Linked DNA regions of Homo sapiens: region 1 is linked to region 2. The links come from fine-mapping of genetic effects on gene expression. A gene starts in region 2. The other region holds a variant in brackets. All regions are shown on one strand. Distances are from middle to middle.

Evidence for each region. PIP is the estimated chance that this variant, and not a neighbour inherited with it, causes the effect.
Region 1: its variant is the best candidate, but not a certain one, in a credible set for the expression of AK6 in testis (GTEx, PIP 0.51).

The regions. Positions count from the first base shown.
Region 1 is chr5:69,183,726-69,186,747 of GRCh38, forward strand. All of the region lies in intron 1 of LOC112267932 (a long non-coding RNA gene), which reads right to left. Among named protein-coding and RNA genes, the nearest start is that of CENPH, 4.3 kb to the right of the region's middle. The variant G/A (reference allele first, on the strand shown) is at 1,686.
Region 2 is chr5:69,368,502-69,371,001 of GRCh38, forward strand. It overlaps AK6 (adenylate kinase 6), which reads right to left and starts at 1,019. Exons shown (of 5, transcript NM_016283.5): 1 at 962-1,019. The coding sequence starts at 989. TAF9 (TATA-box binding protein associated factor 9) reads right to left here and starts at 1,019. Exons shown (of 3, transcript NM_003187.5): 1 at 962-1,019. It overlaps RAD17 (RAD17 checkpoint clamp loader component), which reads left to right and starts at 1,317. Exons shown (of 19, transcript NM_133338.3): 1 at 1,317-1,432. RefSeq lists an enhancer at 1,571-2,120.

The sequences.
Region 1 (3,022 bases), 180 kb before region 2:
GGGAGAATCCCTGAGCCAGGGAAGTCAAGACTACAGTGAGCCAAGATCACGCAACTGCACTCCAGCCTGGGTGTGGGAGTGAGACCCTGTCTCAAAAAATAAAATGGTAGATATTCCATGCTTTTTTGGTCTCTAAAAATTTTTCTCTCTGTATGATATAATCGCTCTTTTAGAGATGTTCCCCTGGCCCCCGCCCCCACCCTGCAACAATAGAAAATTATGTCCATGTTTGGTGGCTCATGCCTATAATACCAGCACTTTGGGATGCTGAGGCAGGAGGATTGCTTGAGGCCAGGAGTTCAAGACTGACCTGGGCAACATAGTGAGACCCTGTCTCTAAAAAAATATAAAAAATCGAATCTTAGCACTTTAGGAGGCCTAGTCAGGAGGATTGCTTGAGCCCAGGAATTTGAGACCAGCCTGGGCAACATGGTGAGACCCTGTCTCTATTAGAAAAAATATATATATAATTTAAAAAATTAGCCCGGCAGTCATGGTGGTATGTGCCTGTAGACCTAGCTACTTAGAATGCTGAGGCAGGAGGATCACTAGAGCCCAGGAGTTTGAGGCTATAGTGAGCTATGTTCATGCTACTGCACTCCAAGCTGGGTGACACAGCAAGACCCTGCCTCTTACAAAAAAAAAAAAGAAAAAAAAATCATCCATTCTAGATTTTTAAAGTTATAGTTGTAGAGGACCATGACAAAATTAATCTCTTCTGAATGTACAGTTATATCTTCTTTCTCAGTCCTGATGTTGAGTACTTTTGTTTTCTAATCAGACTTGCCCATGAGATTATTTCATTGGCCTTTTGAAAGAACTAGTTTTTGGTGTTACCATTTCTACCATTTTTATTTTGTGGTTGTAGCTTTTACATTATTCCCACCATCTCCTTTATTTTCTAGTTTAAATATTTTCTATATTTTAGTCATGAAAGTGAGGCAATAGAATAGGGTCTGGAGGCAGGGAACCTAAGGCAGATTCACGCTGACTTCCTAGAACTAAATCAAAAGGAAAACCCCAACTTTCCACACTTAAGTAACAAATGGACCTGAGGGTACTCCCTTTGCAAACCCCCACCCCCCTTTTCCTGTGTGGCAGATGGAAAGTGGAAAGTACTTCTGATTGGCTGCTTTCTACAACCAATCATACTAATTGTGGGACACTACTTTATTTGCATGGGGTGTATACCAAGTGGCCAATGGGAAACCTCTAGAGGGTATTTAAACCCCAGAAAATTCTGTAACCTGGCTCTTGGGACCCTATGCTTGGCCTGCTACCACCCTGTGGAGTGTACTTTTGTTTGTTTGTTTGAGACAGTCTCCCTCTGTTGCCCAGGCTGTAGTGCACTGGCACAATTTCGACTCATTGCAACCTCTGCCTCCCTGGTTCAAGCAATTCTCCTGCCTCAGCCTCCCGAGTAGCTGGGATTACAGGTGTTCACCACCATGCCCAGCTGATTTTCGTATTTTTAGTAGAGAGGGGGTTTCACCATGTTGGCCAGGCTGGTCTCGAACTCCTGACCTCAAGTGATCTGCCAGCCTCGGCCTCCCAAACTGTTGGGATTACAGGCATGAGCCACCGCACCTGGCCAGTCAATATCTTTTTCTTTTTCTTTTCTTTTCTTTTTTTTTTTTTTTTTTTTTTTTGAGATGGTGTCTCTGTCACCCAGGCTGGAGTGCAGT[G/A]GCGCAATCTTGGCTCACTGCAACCTCCACCTCCCAGATTCAAGTGATTCTCCCGCCTCAGCCTCCTGAGTAGCTGGGATTACAGGCGCATGCCACTACGCCTGGCTAATTTTTGTATTTTTAGTAGAGATGCGGTTTCACCATGTTGGTCAGGCTGGTCTCGAACTCCTGACCTCGTGATCTGCCCACCGCGGCCTCCTAAAGTGCTGGGATTAAAGGTGTGAGTCACCGCACCTGGCCAGTCAATATCTTTTGAGATTTTATTTATTTATTTTTTGTCAGCTTGATGTTGGGTGTTTTTTTAAGAATTTTCAATTCTTGCCTCCTCAGAAGAAAGGATTTGACTGAGGGGCATAAGGCAGAAGAAGAAACCCAGGCAAGTTTCAGAGCAGGAGTGAAATTTTATTAAAAAGCCTCAGAACAGTAAGGAAAGGAAGGAAAGTAAAGAAAAGAAGGAAAGGTATGTGCTTTCCTTGGTTGATAAACCAAGTGTGCCTGGTGATTTTTAATGTTACTGAAGATGTGGCATGTTAAAAAGGCATCTTTCTGCTAGCACAGTGGCTCACATCTGTAATCCCATGATTGTTTTTGTTTTAAATCTTGGCCAGGCTGGTCTCGAACTCCTGGGCTCCACAGATCCTCTTGCCTCAGCCTCCCAAAGTGCTGGGATTACTGGCATGAGCCACCACACCAGCGGTGTAATCCCAGTGTTTTGGGAGGCCAGGGTAGGAGGATCAATTGAGGCCAGGAGTTTAAGACCAGCCTGGGCAACAGCGCAAGACACTGTCTCTACAAAAATTAGCCAGGCATGGTGGCCTGTGGTTCAACCTGAGTGAGACCATGACTCTAAAAATCAAAAAAAAAAAAAAAACCCTGCCACAATCCTATCACACTAAGAAAATTGGTAACTTAATATCTAATATGCAGAACATATTCAAATTTCCTCAGTTGTTCCAAAAATGTATTAGGGCTTTTATTTTTTTTCCTTTTCCAATCCAAGATTCAATCATGGTTTGTTTTTCTATATAGAACAACTGCCCTGTTTTCTGTGTTTCAGGACATAGACATGAATTGTCTTGTAGAATGTTCCTCAGTCTGGATTTCTTGTCTCATGTTTTCAGCACAGTTAAGTTCAGGTTACACATTTGGCAATATAGGTGATGTGTACAACTCATGCATTATATTAGAATCAGACATCAGATTGTTATACCATTTTTGATACCAATTTTGACCATCTGGTTAAGGTGGTAACCACTAGCTATAACATTCCTCTGAAGTGCTGGTCTCTAGTTTTAGCACTCATTAATTATACTTTCCTGACATTTATCTCCCTGGGA
Region 2 (2,500 bases):
TGATCCATGCAAAAAGATGTAAAATCTTCCGCTTAAGGAATCTAAAATTCTAAACGTTATTTGTGGGGTGGTTAATCTGCACCTCTCAGAAACAGACATGTCTTGTGCGCTGCCAACAATTTTACCTTTGGGTGAATGATGTAACTTTACTGTTCCCACAAAGAGTCTTAATTTTTCTGTACCTTGCAATAAAATCTACATGCATTAGATTTTTCCACGAATGGCCTACAATTTGATAAACACTTTCAGGACTAAACGGCTAGCAAAAATATTCGTTAAAGTCGTTATGCAGCATTTTAATTCCCTTCACTGATAACATGCACCCTGAGTATGGCTTCAAAGACCCACTCCTACGCGAGAAACGACCCGAAATGCTCTATATGCCTTCCTTTTAAGGGGCGGGGGGATCCTTTGATGTAACTCAACAAAAGCATACAGCAATTTCGTCACGTCACAAACATCTGAACTCGTTTACCGAAATCTAATCTGAGGCGTTTATCAGAAGCAAAGAAAAAATAAAATACGGCCCACGGAGGCCTAAGGAGTGAGGCATCCACCATTAATGACTCTACCGGGAAGCAGATATGGCCTTACGTTATTTCGCTAAAAATCCCAAGGCCAACCCTGCCAAAGAATCAACAACCCATTTTACAAACGAAATACCAGATTCAGAAAGACTAAGCAGGTTGCCAAGCTGGAGAGCTGGATCTGCCGACCTCTCTCCACCCCCCCCCGCCCCCCCCCGGAGCCTCAGGCCAACGGAATTAACGTTCCGCGTCCCCTCCCTCGCCTCCCGCAACGCCCGCGAGGGTCGGCTCCCGGGGCGCTGACAACCGCCTCGTGGCCCTCGGCCGGCCTCTGAAGAGGGCAGTGAGGGGCCCCCACCTGGGCGCCCGATGCCCAGAGCACTCTGCGCCCCCAGCCTGCCCCAGCCCAGTCCCTCCCGGCCGCGCGCCCTGACCGGTGAGCAGGATGTTCGGAAGCAACATGGTCCCCGCCGCGACGGCTTCGGGCGCCTCGCTCACGTGCCCTTTGCTCTACAGGGAGGAGCCGGAAGGGGCGGGCGGCAGCAAAAGCCCACGGCCCCAAAGGCCCCGAAGCCCACCGCGGCGCCCCTAGCCTGCCCCGGCGGCCCAGCCGCGGCCCACTGGTTACCTGGCTTTCGATGACACATTTCCGTCGCAAAGTTGGAGGGTGGGCATAACTCGGGTCGGTACTTCGGGTCAGGCAGTGCGCTGGATGCCTAAGTCACACACTCCTTCGGTGGTCCCCGCCCTTCGCTTGCGCCGACCAGTCTGGAAGGTCCCCGGGAGGCCGTACCTCCGAGAGGCTCGGCGTTGAGCCCGGGTAGGGCCAGGTGGCTGCCCTTTCACCTAGGGTAGTCCCTGGTCGCCTCCGCTCTTCGCCTAAAAGGGGATGCAGCTCCGGGAAAGTAAGGCCGCCGCGGTTGCGGCTATATTATGTATATGTCTTAGAGACGTGAGTCTATCTCTGCCTTCAAGCTTTCCTGGGCTCTCGTCGCTCCTCCTCCCGACCCGCCCATCCCATCTGGGGATGAGAAGATTGAGGGTGCAGAGCCCTGTCCTGCAGCGGGGATTTGCGAGCTCAACCCGGCACCCCACTGATTACAGGATTACGTTGGACGAATATTTGAGCTTAGTATTCCCTGTTCACTGTGTGGGGTGGTGGTGGGTCGGCTAGGAATAGTCTTGAAGGTCTACCTCTGACATCTCATTTCAGTAACCTCGCATCTTCAGGGACAGTTATCTGCTTTTTAAAGGAGGTAATTGTCAATCTTGTTTTCAAGAGTGAATAGAGACCTGACCGTGACAACAGTCTGCACCTTTTTTTGTTTGTTTGTTTGTTTTTGTTTTGTTTTGAGACGGAGTCTCACTCTTGTCGCCCAGGCTGGAGTGCAACCTCCGCCTCCTGGGTTCAAGTGATTCTCCTGCCTTAGCCTCCAGAGTAGCTGGGATTACAGGCGCCCACCACCACGCCCGGCTAATTTTTGCATTTTTAATAGAGACGGGGTTTCACCATGTTTTGGCCAGGCTGGTCTCAAACTCCTGACCTCAGATGATCCGCCCGCCTCGTCCTCCCACGGTGCTGGGATTACAGGCATGAGCCACCGCGTCCGGCCCCTGGTCTGCATCTTTTATTTCGAGCTACAAACTATATTTACTCAAATAGGTGTTTTTTTTCCACCTGTATACCTTTTGAAACGTCACAGTCTCTAATCGTGAACGATTTGGGGCGGAGGGCTGAACAATGTGTTTTCTAGTGTGTCGAGGTGTTTATAGGCTATGTGTGCCTCCAAACTGTAAAGTAGTCCAGTATACTTTCCAATGTATAAGTTTGTAGACCTTAAACTTTTCTTCTGGCTAACTTAAAATCGTTGAATTCACTAGTTTGCATAAACATTTAAGAATTTGAAAACACGGTTGAAAAACAGTGTTACCAAGAAATTTTGTAATAACATGTTCAAATGAAGACAAAAATT